Linked DNA regions of Homo sapiens: region 1 is linked to region 2. Evidence: fine-mapped expression QTL. A gene starts in region 2. The other region holds a variant in brackets. All regions are shown on one strand. Distances are between the middles of the regions.

Evidence for each region.
Region 1: its variant is fine-mapped to the expression of SMAD1 in whole blood (INTERVAL, PIP 0.93).

What each region holds. Positions count from the first base shown.
Region 1 is chr4:145,502,207-145,511,837 of GRCh38, reverse strand. The region is part of intron 1 of SMAD1 (SMAD family member 1); the gene reads right to left. SMAD1-AS2 (SMAD1 antisense RNA 2) reads left to right here and starts at 8,858. Exons shown (of 2, transcript NR_108077.1): 1 at 8,858-8,962. RefSeq lists a silencer at 3,964-4,164. The variant A/G (reference allele first, on the strand shown) is at 4,157.
Region 2 is chr4:145,476,931-145,486,561 of GRCh38, reverse strand. SMAD1 (SMAD family member 1) reads right to left here and starts at 4,709. Exons shown (of 7, transcript NM_005900.3): 1 at 4,524-4,709. RefSeq lists silencers at 3,891-3,990, 4,081-4,140, 4,481-4,640, 4,811-4,940.

The DNA.
Region 1 (9,631 bases), 25 kb before region 2:
TAAGGGTAAGTTTAAATGAATACTGACTTCACAAAACAACAATAGGAATGTCTTGTGATGTTTAAAATATATGTACAATTAAAATGCATGGCAACAGCAAAAAGAGATATATGAAGTTAGCATTCTAAGGTCCTTGTGTTATCCAGGCCATGGTAAAGTATAATTTACTATTAGTACAGTAAGTTATGAATTCATGTCATAATAAAGCAACAACTGAGAGAATAAGTTAAAAATTATAACAAGCTAATAGATGGGTTAAAAATATGGAATTAAAAAAATATATATGATTAGCCCAGTAATCCCAGCACTCTGGGAAGCCAAGGTAGAAGGATAGCTTGAGGAGTTCCAGAGTAGCCTGGGCAGCACAGGAAGACCCTATCTCTACAAAAAGTAAAAAAGTAGTCCAGCAAGGTGGCATGTGCCTGCAGTCTCAGCCACTCAGGGGGCAGAGGCAGGAGGACTGCTTGAGCCTAGGAGTTATGATAGGTGTTATGATTGTGCCACTGCACTCCAACCTGAGTGACAGAGTGAGAGCGTCTCTAAAAATCAAATAAAAATTTTAAAAATGATTAATGCAAAACATATGAAAAGGAGACAACAGATGAGACAAACAGAAAATAGTAAGATTTAGATATAATCCCAAAGTATAAGCAATTACTTAAATATAAATGACTAAAATATGACAACTAAGAGAGTTGTGGGGAACATTATTTAACCATATTGTACTTAAAAGAGACACACATTAAATATAAGAACACAGTATTGAAAGCAAGAGAGTGGAAAAATATATACTATGCATATTCCACCCAAAAAGCTGGCATAGCTATCCATTCAGATAAAACAGACTTCAAAAGTAAGAGGTATCACCAGAGATTTTTAAAGACAAAAAAGAAAAAAAGGACATTTTATAGTGATGAGTTGAGCCACCATGTAGTTTTTAAATTCCAAATTTTATGTAAATAATAACAGTCTCAAATTCATAAAGCAAAAGACTAACAATTACAATGACAGGCAAACCCACAATCCTAGTGGGAGATTAACATAATAAATGATAAAACAAGCAAACAAAAATCAATAGATACAGAAAAAAATTGTTTAAAAACTTGATCCAATTCATATACATATTATCACAGCACTCAACAACTGTACAATTCATAACACTTTCAAATACGCAAGGAATACTTACTGAAATTGACCATATAATGAATAACAAAGCAAATCTCAATCTGTATCAAAATACTAAAATCATATAGAACATATTCTTTGATTTTAGTATAACTAAATCAATAAAAACATTGTTATTGAAAAGAACCAAACTTTAAAATAACCCAAAGGTCAAAGAAGAAATTATAGAGGAAATAGAAAATATTTTTAACTGAATGATTGTAAAAATATCACATCAAAAATGCAGGATGTGGCTCAAGGCACAGAGGGAAATTTATAGTCTTAAATGCATATATTAGAAAAGGAAAAAAGCTGAAAACTAACACTCTAATACCCGCCAAAGATTTTTTAAAAGGAAAAATAAACCCAAAGAAAGTAGAAGAAAATGAAAGCAGAAATTTAAAGCATACTAAAGAAAACCTATAAAATCAAAGTTGATTCTTTGAAAATACTAATAAAATTGGATAAATCCCTAGCAAAACTGATAAATAAAAAAGAGAAGGCACAAATTACCAATAAATGGATCAGAATGGGGAAATCGTTAGCCTCAGAAATTAAAAATTATAATTATTATAAATAGCTGTCATGGCAAACGGTGCATGTCTATAGCTACATTGTGATAATCTACACATCTGTCATCTTCACTACAGGAAACAATGTAGGACTCCAACTTATTATTTTCTTACCTTTGGAACTTGGCATAGTACCTGGCACATAGCTGATTCTCACTAAATGCCTGATGAATAATTTAGCTCCTTGAAGAACTTAGAAAGCCAAATACGGAGCGTCAACTCTATTTGGGAGGCCACAGGGTGTCCGCTGTTTTCCTTTTTAAAGAGTTCACCCAAATTTACTAGTTTTTTTGAAGTTGGTATTATTTTCATTTAACATTAAAGGAAAGAGAAAACAAAACTATGCTATTATCAAAAGTCACACTTGGTCAGAGTGTACCTATTGATATGATAATTTCCTTTTACTAAAAGGTTAGTTTTGCAAAAGAACAAGAACTTTTTTCTAGGCTTCTGGGAATAATTTATAGAGGGAGTGTATTTCTTCATATTCTATATGTCCATCTCTTCTTCAAAAACAGCTTTTTAACATTTTAAGCAATAATTTTTAAACAGAATGGCTAAGTTTGCATCAAAATAACTTGGGGCTATTTTAAAATATATAACAAATACATTTAAACAAATACCCCCAAAATCACTTGGGGGTATTTATTTAAGGCAAGTGTTGGGCAACGTATTATATAAGAACCACCATTTCAGATTTTTGTTTTAACTATTCAAATCGACATTCATTCAACAAAGCTGTATTAAGCACCTGCTAAGTATGCCTAGCACAGTGCTAGACACAGGAGACACAGAAGCAAACATGTCTAACATACTGGAGGAGCTCACAATCCATTGGGAAAGCCAGTGTGTAAACAACTAACTCCCATAAAGCAAATTGCTAACCTGCATGCTAATTCTAAAGGACTTTGCTGAGATGTTTTATTAGGTGACCTTCCAGGGACTCAGTCAGAAGAAATAATACGATTATACCATTGCCCATGGGCACAAGAATAACCGAAGAAGAGGCCCATGTGCTGTGCATTTACCTACTATTAACTTACTCTAATATCATGTGATAAAGGCTATAAAACAAGTATCAACAACACTCTGGTCTGAATATTTGTATCCCCTCCCTAAATTCACATGTTGAAATCCTAACCCCAAAGGTGACAGAATTAGAAGGTGAGTCCTTTGGGAGGTGATTAGGTCATGAGGACGGAGCTCCCATAAATGGAATTAGTGCCCTCATAAAAGAGATCCCAGAGAGATCTCTCCTCCCTTCCACCATATGAGGTTACAGAGAGAAGAGGCCATCCAGGTACCTTGATCTTGGATTTCCCAGTTACTGTAACTTTGAGAAATAAATTTCTGTTGTTTATAAGCCACTCAGTCTATATGGTATTTTGTTATAGCGGCCTACAAACTAAGACAATAATATATAAAAACGGAAAAGGAAAGAACAATTCCAGAGATTTCAGAACATTTTTTTCCAAGAGAAAACATCAGACTTAAAGGATAAGTAGAATTTTGCAAAACAATAGAGCAAACATTTTGTGTGTTCATTACTTGACAAACACTGTTCACTGCTGTTTATCTATTAACCAGTTTAATCTTAGCAACAATACCTTAGTATTTACTGTGAAGTAAATACTATCATTTTCTTTATTTTACATGTAAGGAAAATAAAATATAGAATAGTTGAGTATCTTGTCCAAAGTTATGTAGACAGCTATAAGTGGCAGAACCTGGATCTGAACCCATTTTGCCTGGCTCTAGAGCCAGAATTTTTAAACCACTTTTCCAAATGGCTTGTTCCAACAGACACATGATAGAAATGCTAGGGTTTAATCCGCTGGAGATGATGATACAAGCTGATATGAAGGAAGGGGCAAGACTGAAGAATCTTATCATATGGACAAGTGGAAGGTTTTAAATCTGAGAATTAGCATTATTAGATCTACATTTTAGAAAGACAACTAAGGTAATATCTTCAATACAGAAAGATTTCTTCATACTGGGAGCAAAAAAAAAAAAAAAAATCTAAACCAAGGGCATCCAAACATTATAGAAGCCAGTTAGGTGGTAAATGTCTTGAGGCCACTCACGAAAATTAAAGTGAAAGATCACAGCACTTTGCATATAAACATGCCCAGACAAAACAAAATGCAGGCTGATGACTAATTTTTACCTGAGTTAAGCATTTTTTAATATACAAGTCAAACAGGTAACCTACCTCATATAAGGAACTCAAATGAGTCCATGATACTATGGCCTTGGCAAGACAACTACTTTTTTTCTGCCCCTTTTTGTACTTCCTGCCTTAGTTTATGTCAAAAGCTAAGTGGCCTTATCAGTTTAAAGTGCAAAATAAAAACATGAGTCAGCAAACAGAGATTTCCTTCCCTCTTGTCCAAATATAAACATTTCACACTAACAAA[A/G]AAGTATTCATCTAGTAAAAAAAAAAAAACCCAGCAGCCTTAAAAATATTGAGATCTTTATTCCAGCAACTTTATCTTCAGAAATTTACTCTAAGGAAATATTCTGAACCAGAAAGGGAAAATTGTTTTTGCACAAAGATTTTCATCAGAGCATTATTTATAATAGGGAAAAAAAGAGAAACATCTAATAATTGAAAAATACCTAAGTAAACTGCATACATCCACTCAATGGAATATTATACAGACCTTAAAAATTATGTTCATAAAGACTACGTAATAATTTGGGGAAAACTGTACGCAGAACATAAAATGGTTGGTTATATGTACCATGAACAACTATGTAAATATATGAAAATATTAACCATGACTGGGTTTGGAAGATTAGTAATGTGTCTCTCTCCTCCTTTTCTAAACTTTTCAAACGTTCTTTAATGAAAAAATGTAACTTCTGATTTTTTATAAAAAGGTTTTCGAAGCAAATATTTGCTAATTACAAAAAAAAAAAACCCACAAAAATCAATTCATTATCTCAAGCCACATCTATACTCTACTTAGAAATCAGGTTGGATTTATAGTGTGATCTGGTTTGAGAAGCAAAAAAAATATAATGTAGTTTAAAGCAGTGTTCTGAACTCAGAACGTTTTCCTAAGGAGTCTCACCCATGGGAAGGATTTCTATCAGAACTGCCAGAAGTGAAATTAGAAAAATACTCTTATACTACTCGACACGGCTAATTAATTTTCCAACTTATGTGTTATTCCTTAATATTAAAAGAAAAAAATGTTAAAATACTCTTAACTGCTATGTAACTTGCTTTATATTTAAAGGAAGCCTAATCAGCCAATTGCAGAACAAATGGGCATTTTCTTCACCTTGGCCTCATCTAGTAAAGCAACAAGTAAATTATCCAACTCCTGTGAATATCAACAAAATACACTCTCTTCCATTTAATATGTTACAGATCCCAAATTCCCACAGAAAGTTTTTTTTTAATTACCCTAATTTGTATATGAAGATATAATTGTTTTTTAAAGGAAGGAGTAACCACCAAATGTTACAACCCCCTTTAATAAAAAGATTAGGAGACAAATAATGTTCAACCACTCTCTGTATCAGCTTCAGACTAGAGGCTGTTTTATAATTCTTGCACCAGTATGGAATTCAGCAGACAAAATAAATGCTCCCATTAAATATTGAGGGAATAATTGTATTATTCAATAAAATAAACAAAAAATACAGGCTACAAAAAGTGACTGGGGGAAAAAAATCCAAAAACTCTCCGTACTTTAAGAAAGGCAAATAACAGAAGATAAATGGTCTATTGTCAAATGAAGCAGGCAACTCTTTTCTCCCCCTACTTCTTGTTCTTTGGTTCATTACACTTTCTTAACTAATAGTAAAAAATCATGGCACAAAGATCAAAAGAATTAAGGAACTAAAAGTACAGGGTATTGATTAACTTCACTTTGAAAATGTTTAACAGCTGGATACTTTTTTTTTCTTTTTTTTAAAGACAACTTTATAAAAATTCTGTTTGATCGGCCAGGCTTGGTGGCTCACACCTGTAATCCCAGCACTTTGGGAGACCGAGGAGGGGGGATCACCAGTCAAGAGTTCAAGATCAGCCTGGCCAACATGGTGAAACCCTGTATCTACTAAAAATACAAAAATAAGCCGGGCATAGTGGTGTACACCTTTAGACCCAGCTACTTGGGAGGCTGAGGCAAGAGAATCACTTGAACAGGGAGGTGGAGGTTGCAGTAAGCCAAGATTGTGCCATTGCACTCCAGCCTGGGTGACAGATTGAGACTCCGCCTCAAAAAAAAAAAAATTGTTTGACCTTTTTTTTCCTTTTTGGAAACAAATATTTCTAAGTAACAAAACCACCTAAGTGCGTATTTCCAGACTTACATCGCCAGATATATTCTTAAACAGATAGACTGGTCTTGTGAATACACAGAAAAAGTAAGACTTGAGCTTCCAGAGTAGACCTATGGTGGGCTTCAGAGTGATTATAAGCAAACTGCATGAATTTTGTAGTTCAGCATTTTTTTTTTTTTTTTTGACAGAGTCTTGCTCTGTCGCCCAGGCTGCAGTGCAGTGGCGCGATCTCGGCTCACTGCAGCCTCCACCTCCTGGGTTCACACCATTCTCCTGCCTCAGCCTCCGGAGCAGCTAGGACTACAGGTGCCCACCACCACGCCCAGCTAATTTTTTATATTATTTTCCAGTATTTTTAATATATGAAACTATTTCACAATACACCTCATTAGATGCCATGGAGATGCAAGATATCTCAGAGACATGTTGTAGAAAGTGATCAATATTAACTGGCAATATTAATTAGTATTACAGAAATGTATGTGTCATCTATCCTAACATCCAATTTTGGATAGGATTCAAGGCCTGGTGAGATCAACTCTTGCCTTGTTTGAGATGCTTAAATTAAAACATCAAAAAAGGTCAAAGGGGAACATGCCAGGGGACTTGTAATGTAATTCTCATTACTATAAAACAAACTACTTTTTTCTAACCTGCTCCATTTCACTTAGGTACTCAAGTCAACTGTATAGTCCAAACAAAGATGGAATTGTCCAAATAGATCATGATTTCAAAGGATAATAAAGACACCTGAAAAATTCCTGACACTTATAGAAACCACAGACTCACAGAAGATTATACACTAAAGACGTAGGGTTAAAAATGCATAAAAACACAAAGGTTGGAAAAACCATATTATTTCAGCAATTTAAGGCCAATAAATATTTTAAAACAATAAAGAGCAATCCATCATTGCTTGCATCTTTCAAGCCATCTTGTAAGCAAAGAATTGCAATGAGATTTATTGGTAAAATATGAAAAATTCACAAAATGGAAAGGGGATCATAATCATTTGCCCTAAATAAAATCAGGCTGAATTAATCAGAAGTCCAGAAGAACTGGGAACTTACAAACTTTTGATAAAGCTGAAATAACTATTACTTAAATGTGGAACAGCAGACAACCCACATGAGACAATGGCCCAGCAAGAGGGCTGAGGCAGAAACTGCCATCCGCTCACATTTCCAAACAGAGAAATAGTACCCCTAAAAAACAGTACCCCTAAAAATGAAGACAGGTGGAGACAGAACTCTAGAACAAGTAGAACACAACGATAAGTAGCAGACAGTAGGAATTGTAAATGGTTCCTAACAAAAAGCATGAAAGATTATTGTACAGCTCCTTAAGGAAAATGATAAATATCTACCCTTAAGGTTAAGGCAGACAGGCAAAAGACAAGTTAAAATTTGCTATACAAGTCCAATGCCATTACAATGAATATAAAAACAGAAATGGATCTAGTTATTTCAGTTCCAGAAAATACCCTAAAGTAGCAATGTTCTTTGATCTGGTTCAACAAATAATGTTCAAATGCTTCTTTAACCCAGTTACTCCAGTTAGGAGCTAACCAGGTTTTCAGATACAGTAAAGTCCTTACGGGTTCTTGGAAACTGTGGCTCTAAGTGAAACGATGTAAAACAAAATTAATTTTAGCATCAGCTAATTTATATAAACAAGAGTTAAGTTCCTTCAGGACATTTCTGGTCACAAAAACATTACCAAACTTCTGAGACCCAAAACACTTCTAAAATTAACACTGAAATAAATGTGAGCCATATATACATTTAAGAAAGATGAACAGAAACAAGATAATTATTTACCCAATTATTCCAATTCAGGGTCGCAGTGGCCCGAGCCGATCCCAGCAGCTTAGGGCACAAGGTGGGAACCACCCCTGGACAGGACACCATTTCATGGCAGGGCGCACTCACACACACACCTACATGCACTGCAATGGGGACAATGTAGACATACTAATTCACCTAACGTGCACACCTTTGGGATATGGGAGGAAACTAGAGTAGCCAGAGAAAACCCAAGCAGACATGGGGAGAATGTGCAAACTCCACACAGACAGTGGCCTAGGCTGGGAATGTTTTTTCTCATCAACGTTATAAGGAAATGGCATTGAATGAAATGAGGTTGTCTGAGGACCTGCTGTATTTGTATTGGAGGAGGAAACAGGTGAAGTGCCTGCATTCCTTTTTCCTGTTTTAAAACAGCAGTTAGCCCTCAACTTTCAACATTTGTCTCAATCTCAAATGAGTCAAATTTAGCTAAATAAAACTCACCACTAAGCAAAATAAGGGAGGAAAAAACCTCTAGAACAGAAAGAAAAATGAAAATGGATAAAACCTTGCTCTTTACTGATGCTAACGTACTTCATAAAGTACAGCGCTTAACTTCATTGCTAAAAAGGCTATAATGAACTCTATTTCGCTTTAGTCCTTAGGGGAAAAATGTATTTAAACCAAATTCCTACACAAGAAAGCCATACGGAGACCCACAGAGAACACAGAACTCTGCTGCTCTCAGTTCACAGCAGCAGGAGAGTCCTACCATCACAAACACCACAAGTAAAGTTCCATCTTACTGAGCCTCTTACTATTCAGCCTTGATCTGGCTACTTCCAAACATGGGACTGATGATGCAGAATAGCTAGTTTGACATTTTTCCCACTGAAAATTTATTTTTGCCGGAGACTGATTTTCTAAATCTGGAGAAATTGGGGGTTGGAGATAGGAGAGAGGTTCAGTTCGTGAAATTCTATTTATAGTGATGCAATAATGCAGGTACTATTGCCTTTAAAGCGCAGACACTGTGCGTTTAAAGCGCAGACACTGACAGCAAGTCTTCCAGTCTCTCCAGTATAACTTAAGTGACATGCCAGCAAGAGATGCAATTTGGTCCCTCAACAGTGTTAAGTGAGTAGAAATCTTAGGAATCAAAAAGAAAAGGAATACCATGTAGACTGAATTCCAGCTTACTACTTACCACTTGTAAGTTCACTGAAGCTGTGAAATTTCAGCCAAACAATTTCAAAAGTAGCATCTCCTTGATGAAAAGGAAGCAAGGAACTTATGGATGTCAGAATGACAAGAGTCTCTAAGGATATAACTGTAGTTTATTTATTTTAGGTGTGCCAAGTGTGCTATTAACGTATCTTCATTATATCAGAAAATTCTTTAAAAAGAGTTCTTTCTGGTTCTGTTCTGCATACACAAATCCTTCCATCCTGACAAATCTAGGCTGCTAATAGAGTACCTGGTTAATTTTTCTTAATCACAGAGATTCCCTATAAAATAGCAGCTGTCACATCTGTTTTGTCTGATTAGATGATTACTTGAATAGTTAAGGCAATTGAAAGTTTTCTTATTGTCCCCAACTTCAACAAACAAAGTTGGCTTTTCTATATCTTCTTGCCATTTCCTCTAAAAGTTGTACAACATTCCTTAATCCCATTGAACCCCCATTCCCAAATTCATGCTTGTAATGGCATACTGTCCTTCAGGACACGGTAGCCTTTCAAGATGTCCAGCTCCCCATAAGCTCATCCTGATAAAGGCCATTCACATTCATGTCAACTCAAACAC
Region 2 (9,631 bases):
GGAATAAGAAGATACAAGATCCATAGTTTCATCGATTCTTAAACAGCCCTGACCTTGTAAAACATTTACAAAAATAGATGTTGAATGTTTTTTTAAAAATCCCCAATGAATTTGCAATTACTATTCTTACAGTGTTTAACAGCTCAGGGAAGATAGACTAATTTTGGTAAGACAGACAAACTGAATTACTACAACTTTCCTCCTAACTTAATATCAGTTTGTGATTATGTAAGAAAATGCAAGAGGAAAGTGACAAGAATTATGCAGAAAAGCAGAGATAAAACTAATTTGGCTTTGAAATGCATTATTTTCATGCCAGATTTATTCTTCAAATTATGTGCTGCTTAGATGAGCATTATTTTTCCTTTCTTAAACACTTACAAAAGAACGACAGAAGATAGCCCAGAAAGGCACAATAGAAGGTAAATTTATTTAAAGACCTACAAAATACACAAGCCAAGTCATGTCTATACTGGCATAGTAAAGCACAGCAGAACAATGATGATTTGGGTCTTCTGAACGAAAGACCAAAAAACATAGTTAAGATGGAGTTTCTAGAGTTGGACTGCCTCGATCATATCCCAGGTAAGATTAGAAATCATAATCATTCACTGTACCTCCTGAAGCAAGATACTGAATCATTCTGTCCTCAGTTTCTTTACCTGTAAAATGTGACAACAATAGTACTTATGGAAGTTTTGAGGCTTAAATGAGATATGGGTATTATAAACAATGCCTGGCATACATACAGTAAAAATTCAGAAAAAAGGGTTAGCTACAATTATTTCTTCTCTCTAAGGCTCTAAACCAAATTAGAATCGATGACACTAATAATAAATAAGATCTACAGAAAAGTCAAACTCCTTTTATCCAGCAGCTTCAACTGTCCCTTCCAAATTGTGTTTTATTTTAAAAAGAACAGCTAGTTAGTGATAAAATTAGTTTATATATGTCTTTCCATCTTTGACTCCACAAATCATTAGTAGAGTTAACAAGTGAGAAGAGGTAAAGGTCCTGGGGCAGCAATGGCTAGCAGAACCTCCTGTGATGATGGAACTATTCTATATACACGCTGTCCAGTATGGCAGCCACTAACCACAAGCAGCTACTAAGCACTTGAAATGCGGCTACTGCTGAGAAAACGAATTTTTATTTAATTTTAATTTAAACTTAAATAGCTATAAGTAGCCGAGTGCAGTGGCTCACACCTGTAACCCCAACACTTTGGGAGGCCGAGGCGGGAGAACAGCTTGAGCCCAGGAGTTCAAGACCAGCCTGGGCAACATGACGAAACCCTGTCTCTACAAGAAATACAAAAACAAATTAGTCAGGCAGACATGGTGGCAGTGCCTGTAGTCCCAGCAACTTGGGAGGCTGAAGTGGGAGGACTGCCTGGGCCTGGGAGGTCGAGGCTGCAGTGAGCCATGATCGTGCCACTGCACTCCAGCCTGGGTAACACAGAGAGACCCTGTCTCAAAAAAATAGAATAATAAAATTTCAAAAAAAGCTACGTGTGACTATGGCTAGGATAGCAGAGCCCTAGATAATCCATAAGCTAAATAAGGATTGTCAGAAACTTAAGCAAAATAAGGATCTTCTTTTCCTGAACTGTTTATATGTTCAATTCAAATATCTTTGTTTCTGGTATAGGCCTGGTAAGTTTGACTAGTTAAAGAAATAACATGTCAGTAGATATCAATACAGTGAAAATTCAGGGGTAATAAAAGGATCAAAGTTAAGTATGTGGTCCACTGATATTTTATAAGGTCCCTAAGGCCAAGTTAAATTCAAACTCACATGAAGCATTCAGTACACATATCAGAGCTGCAAAGGTCCTTATCAGCATCCCTAAAGCATCTGTTTCTCCTCTACCAAATGAAAAGCTACTTATACAATTCAGATTGAATATCTCTGCATTTATCTTAAATTTTTCTACAGAAATTCATAGTTCTGTAAGCCTTTTCCCTCTTTCACACACACTGGTATCCCTGGCCATCTCAGCCTTTCCACTATAAACAAAACCCATGTACCACCCATATCTGAAGTATAACGCCAGACTCCTGCTTAGCTACCCCTGTAATATGGTTTAATTATGATGACTGAACTAATAGGCTGACATCATAGACTTTTACAGGCTGACCCCATGTCATCCTGATGTATCATTTTGCACCAGTTCAGTGCTGTAAATCAATTTAAGATCTCAAGCAGGTTGAAAAGGCTGGTAATGATGCTTTCTCTGCCGTCTCTGGAGACTCTACATTATACCCAACTTACATTATTTATAAAGCCTCAGTGATGCCTCCATTAGCCTTGTAAGACTACACAAATGAGATCTTTTATACACACACACTTGGCCTTGATTATGTAGGCTACTGCAGCTTAAACATGCTAGTCTAATTACTATACCCAAGCTACTTCTTTTTCCAATCTACTAGGTTATTAGATTTAATATTTAACCCAGAATTGCTAGAAATCAAAATTACAAAGTGAAATTTAGTTTTTAACTAATAAATGTAATAAACGTAGTTGAGAAAATGTGACAACTTCCTCTTAATGCCTTAATGAACTTAGTAAAAATAACATAAAATTCCAAGAAGTGTAAGAGGCCAATGTCTTTAATTGCCTAAAAATTGTCATTTCTCTAAAACACAAAGGTCATCAGCTCTTCAAGGATACGAAACCAAAGGATACTGCAAGAGGTAAAATGTATTTGGTTACATACCTATGGTTGTAGGGGTCAAAACTAAATCAAGGACAAATCCCTACCCTCAGAAGAAACTCGATCCTGCCTGGATCCTCTAGAGGCTCTGGCATCACCCACCTCCAGAAAAATCATCTCTCACGACCCTAGCTACACCTTCCTAAGAACTGCAGTATTACACCAATGATACACCACCTGCACAGAAATAGCAAATAATTGCAAATGGGAAAGAGAGTGGGAGAGGGCAGAACAAACACTTTAATCAGTACAGCATATTTAGATCTGGCACCTACATCAGAATAACACTGATGCAACAATATTTATACCAATTGAAAATGCTGGGGCAGTGAACACTTCTGTTCCGATTCTTTTTTAACACGGTCCACCTACCTTCAATACAATTTAAAGTAATTACAAACAATTTGAAAAATCAACATGGGCAGGGAACAGTTTTCTCATTGTGTTACTGAGGTGTGGGCAAGTTATCCACAACAGGCAATTAGACCCAGAGATGTTCTGAAATAGAGGCATTCTGAGATTTAGCGGCTGAGAGTTTCAGCAACAGGAAGAAATAACAGAAATCATGCAACTTCTGTATCATTCCACGTACTTTGAAACTTCAGATACAATGGAAAGAAAAGAGGGGGGAGGGCAGAGAAAAAGGACAGTTGTCTCAGCACTCACGAAAAGGATGCTTTCTCAGGAGATGGTTCTGAGACCGGCCTCAATTTTCAGAAGGAACGCGCCTTTACTGGTTATCTTGCACCGTGTATTTAAAAATTGCATGCTCTTCAAAATAAACAAAAGCTCAGCTACTGTAGCTGTGAGATCTGGCAGGCATTTGTTCCTCCTCCCCTCCTAAAGCACATCAAGAAAACGTTCTCCCTTTAAAGCCTTCATACAGTTTCAGCAACTAGAAAAACAAGCCCACATCTGTCTCTCACGCCCACCACCCCCACCTTCCTACAGAAACAACCCCGAGAAACACTAACAAAGACAGGGAGCAGAGTAAAGGAACAGTTGTTCAACCGCGAACTCACGAATACACATGCAGTGAGGCAATCGACTCCGGTAAAGGGAAAGGAACGAGACACCAGGAGACGCAGCGGGTGTAGGCGGAAGAGGGGGAAAAAATTACGCGCCGCCGCCAAACCTTTGAATAAATTAGAGGGGATCTCGGTGCGAACTTTCCTTGACCTCGACCCCAAAGAGGCTTGCTGGGGCCGAGAAGAAAACCCGTGCGGGATGTGGAGGGGCCCGGGGCGCCGGGGTCCCCCGCCCGCGAGACCCGCTCCACCAGGCGCCTTGGAGAGCAGCGCCAGCGGTCGTCCTCCAGCTCCCGCAGGGGTCGCCCCGCCGGCGCGGGGGACACAATGGGTCCGCGGGCCACGCGAACGGGCCTCGGCCCGGCGGCAGCACGGGAGAGATGTGAGGAGCGCGCGGAAGGGGAGCGCGGCCGGGGAGATCCCAGCGCGGTCAGGCCCGGGAGCCGAGGCTCGGGGGCCCGGGAACTGGGCTTCCCACAGCAGAAGACCCAACAAAGACACCAGGGGAGCCCGGCGGGCTGGGCGCGAGAAGACGTGGTAGCAGGTTCGCTCCTCCGAGCAGACGGGAGGCGCCATCATGGGGGGGGGGGGTCGCGGCCCGCCCCGCGCAGAAAGAGCCCCCTTCCCGCCGCTGCCCGCGCCCCCAGCCCAGCACGACCGCGGCGGCCCCACGCGTGCAGAGACGGCGGCGGCGGCGCTGGAAAGCCCGGGGCGCCGAGGGGAGGGCTGGGACGCGGCATGAAGGGAAAGTTCGGTTCGGGTCTGTTTCGTTTTACCGGGTTGGCGGCGCGCCCGTCCGTGTGGGAGCACGAGTGGCCGGGCGAGCGGGGTCTCGCGGCCCGGGTCCGGACGGCCGGGCGCTGCGCCACTCTCCGCTCCCCGAGCCTCGGCCCGGGTTGAGCCGCTCGGCCTCTCCTTTCTCCGCCCGCCCGCCTGCTTTCTCCTGGAGCCTGGATTGATCTGGTCGCGCTGGCGTCAGGGAGTCGGAGCTGCCCAGCCTCCACTCCTCAGCTGCCAATACCCGGCGCACTCGCCTGCCCGCCCGCCCGCTCACACGCTCACCCGCTCACCCGCGCGCCGCCGCCGCTGCCGCGCGACCAGGGATCCTCTCCAAATTCCCGGCCCGGCCGGCGTGAGCGCAGCGCGGCCGGGGCCGGAGGACGGCGCGGGGGAGCGGCCGGAGCCACCCCCTTCTACCGGCAGCCCCACGCCCCGTTTCTTCCTGGAGAAAAAACAGTGTGGCGGCGTTCAGGCTTTCCTAACCCTGCCTTTTTAGTCCCGGTGGAGCGGACTTAGTCCATTATCTGCAAGTGAATTTCGATGTTCCATATGTTTATTTTCTGAAATGTTCATTAACGCTTCCACCGCGCCCACTGAATCGTTCTATAAACGTGGAGTGCATGTTGACAGTTACCTTTCGAGACGCGCCCTTTTATGTCTATCTTTCGTTGCCCCTCACTCACTCTCCAATAATTTGCAGGCCCCAGAAGTTGTACGTACCCAGAATTGGATAGCCTAGTAAATACTGCACGTGGTTATACAAACCCTGAGTCAACAGATGCGTTTTGTGTCAACTCAGGATCCAGTGATTCGAGTAGGTAACCTTGTTGCTCCAAATAATGGCATGCCATAAGGAGATACTGCTTTAGAACTCCACATTTTTGGTCCAATTTCTACAGTCTTTTAGATGATGCCAACTCCCCCGCACTTAACTCTTACCTACCTGATCTGCATAGACATTGAAAATATCTTCTTGCAAGAGTCAACTTTTCTCTTGGCTAACTCTTGAAGCTGCATAAAATCTTGCATAATTACTATAATGTTGAGTTACGTTTAGAAAAAATGATTTTTTTTTGAGGAATAAATTTCACATGAAGCAAAAAAAAAAAAAAAAAAATCACTCCCAGCAATGTATATCAGAATATGTCTTCTAATTAAATTCCTTTTTCCCTTAACCTATTTGAGCACTTACTGGTCAATTCGTGGGCCTCATCTTATTTTCCCTAAAAGCAGCGTTTGACGCAGTTGATCATTCTCTGCTCCTTAGAACAACAGGAAAGTGAACCTTGTTAAATGCCACTCGGATCAGGCCACTCCTCTGTTGAAAACCCTCCCTTGATAAATAGTATAAAGTATCCCATACAAGAGAACATTATTCAGCCATAAAAAGGAATGAAGTACTGATACTGATGCATGCTACATGGATAACCTTTCAAAACGTGAAGGGAAAGAAGACAGACCACACATTGTATTCTTCCACATATGTGAAATGCTCAGAGTAGGCAAGGCTATGGAGACAGAAAGTAGATTGGTGGTTTGCATAGGGTTGGGGAAATGAGGAACCTGGGGAGTGACAGCTAAAGGTTATGGGGTGACAAAATTGTTCTAAAACTAGTTTCTGGTGATGGTTGCACAACTCTGTGCATATACCAAAAGCCATTAAATTGCACACTTTAAATGGGTCAATCATTTGGTATGTGAATTTTACCTCAAGCTATTAAAAAAAAAGCATGACAATGAAATGCAGTATATGACCTTGATTGGATCCTGAATGGGGAGGAGGAGCTATAAACTGTCATTTTAAAGTCGTTAATTTTTAAAAAAATCAAAAATGGCATTTATTTAATTTTGAGACGGAGTCTCGCTCGGTCGCCCAGGCTGGAGTGCAATGGCACGATCTCGGCTTACTGCAACCTCTGCCTCCCGGGTTCAAGCAATTCTCTTGCCTCAACCTCTCGAGTAGCTGGGACTACAGATACACACCACCACGCCCATCTAAGTAGAGACGGGGTTTCACCATTTTGGCCAGGCTGGTCTCAAACTCCTGGCCTCAAGTGATCCACCCGTCTCAGCCTCTCAAAGTTCTGGGATTACAGGCATGACCCACCGCGCCCAGCCTAGATGGCCTTTCTTAGTGCAGTCCTAGTAGTCTTAAATGATAACTATTAATATTATTATGTATGCAATAAAATTTGATTTTGCCCATTGTGCAAATTATTTCCTTAAATGATAATAAAAATTTGGATATTCTTTTTAAAAGGACATTGATGAGACCATTATAAAAACCTAAATATGGACTGTATATTAATATCATTTTATTAAATTTTTAAAAAATCCTCCCTTGGGTCCTCATTTCACTCAGAATAAAAGTTCCCATAATAAGCACAAGACTCTACATAATCTTTCCTTCCCCTCCTTTAGCACTCTGACCTGCACTTCTACTCTTCCTCTTGCTCACTTCCCCAAGTCACACTGGCATCCTCACTCTTCTGGAACAATCTGGGCACATTCTCACCTCAGTATCTATGTGCTAGCTGTTCCCTCCCTTTCTGAGTTCATTTTGTGTTGCTGTAATAGAATACCACTGATAGAGTTTGGCTATGTATCCCCACCCAAATCTCATCTTGAATTGTAGCTCCCATAACCTCCATGTGTCATAGAAGGGACCTGGTGGGAGGTAATCGAATCATGGGGGTGGGTTCTTCCCATGCTGTTCTCGTGATTGTGAATAAGTCTCATGAGAATCTGACGGTTTTATAAAGGGCAGTTTCCCTGCACACGCCCTCTTGCCTGCTGCCACGTAAGATGTGCCTTTGCTCCTCCTTCACCTTCTGCCATGATTGTGAGGCTTCCCCAGCCGTGTAAAACTGTGAGTCCATTAAACCTTTTTTTTTTGAGACAGAATCTCACTCTGTCACCCAGGCTGGAATGCAGTGATGCAACCTCAGCTCACTGCAACCTCTGCCTCCAGGGTTCAAGCAATTCTCCTGCCTTGGCCTCCCAAGTAGCTAGGACTACAGGCATGCACCACCACGCCTGGCTAATCTTTTTTTGTATTTTTTAGTAGAGACGGGGTTTTGTGGTGTTAGCCAGGCTGGTCTCAAACTCCTGAGCTCAGGTGATCCACCTGCCTTGGCCTCTCAAAGTGCTGGGATTACAGGCGTGAGCCACCGTACCCAGCCCTAAACCACGTTTTCTTTATAAATTACCCAGTCTTGGGTATTTCTTCATAGCAGTATGAAAATGGACCAATACAACCACCAGCTGGGCAGTTTATACACAATAAAAGTTAATTTAGCTCATGGTTCTGGGGGCTGAGAAATCCAAAATCAAGGGGCTGCATCTGGTGAGGGCCTTCTTCCTTCATCACAACATAGCAGAAGGCATCACATAGCAAGAGAGAGAACATGAGAGGAAGGGTAGAAAAGGGCCAAACTCATGCTTATATCAGCAATCCCCTCCTGAGATACCAAACCGCACTCCCATAATGCCATTAATCCATTCATGAGGACAGATCCCTGTTAAAAGAAAAACTTTAGGCAAATTAAATTTAACAGAGTTTAATTGAGCAAAGAGCAATTTGAGAACTGAGCAGCCCCCAGAACCAGAATAGTTTCAGAGCAACTCTGGGGCTGCCACAGGGTCAGATGATGTTTATGGGCAGAGAAAGAAAAGTGACAGAAAATGGAGTGAGGTACAGAAAAAACTGGATTGGTTAGAGCTAAATATTTGCTTTATTTTAACACAGTTTGAACAGTTGGCTGCCTGTGATTGACCAAAACTCTGTGATTGGTACAAGAGTTGGCTACAGTCTGTTTGCATATCCAGTTAGGTTACAGTTTGCTGTGTACAGAGAAACCTTTAGGCCTAACTTAAAATATGTATGGGCCGGGCGTGGTAGCTCACGCCTGTAATCCCAGCTACTCGGGAGACTGAGGCAGGAGAATCAGTTGAACCCGGCAAGCGGAGGTTGCGGTGAGCCAATATCATGCCATTGTACTCCAGCCTGGGCAACAAGAGCAAAACTCCGTCTCAAAAAAAAAAAAAAAAAAATATATATATATATATATATATGTGTGTGTATATATATGTATATACATATGTACATATGTATATATACGTATATATATATATATGGAGGCAGCTTTAGCCTAAACTTAATTTAACAGTCCTCATGACATAATCACCTCTTGAAGTTCTCACCTCTCAACACTGTTGCGCTGGGGATTAAGTTTACAATATATAAACTTTGGGGAATGCATTCAAACCATAGCACTCCCTGGACAGCTCTTCCCACAGATGTCCACATGGCTCACTCCTTCATCTCCCTCAAGTCTTCACTCAAATGTCTCCGTATTATTTAGCCAAAAGAGCAGGATTTTTGGTCTTCTGTGTTCATTGCTATAATCTCAGCACCTGAGCAGTGCCTGGTATTTAACAGGAGCATATTAAATACCTGTTGAATGAATGAGTAAGTGAAGCACTGTTCTAGCAGGGGATATGGTGGCAAGCAGAAAAAAATCCCTGCCCTCATTAAGGAAGACAGATAATAAATAAATACACGGCCAGACGTGGTGGCTCACACCTGTAATCCCAGCACTTTGGGAGACCGAGGTGGATGGATCACGAGGTCAGGAGTTCAAAACCAGTCTGGCCAGCATGGTGAAACTCCATCTCTACTAAAAATACAAAAAAAAAAAAAAATTAGCCGGGCATGGTGGCATGTGCCTGTAGTCCCCGCTACTTGGGAGGCTGAGGCAGGAGAATCACTTGAACCCGGGAGGCAGAGGTTGCAGTGAGCCGAGATCGTGCCGCTGCACTCCAGCCTGGGCGACAGAGCGAGACTCCATCTCAAAAAAAAAAATAAATAAATAAATAAATAAATACGCAAATATGCTAGGTAGTGGTACAAGTGATGGAAAAAACAGGGGAAGAGGGATTGAGAATGGGAGAGATGACTATTTCTAAAGGGGCAGAGGAAACCTCACTGCAAGAGGTCCTGAAGGAAGGGAAGGAAGCACAGTACACACTCTGAGGGATGAGTTCCCAACCTCCCAAGCAAAAGGAAGAGCAAGTGTAAAGACCTAGAAGCTGAGTCTACTTT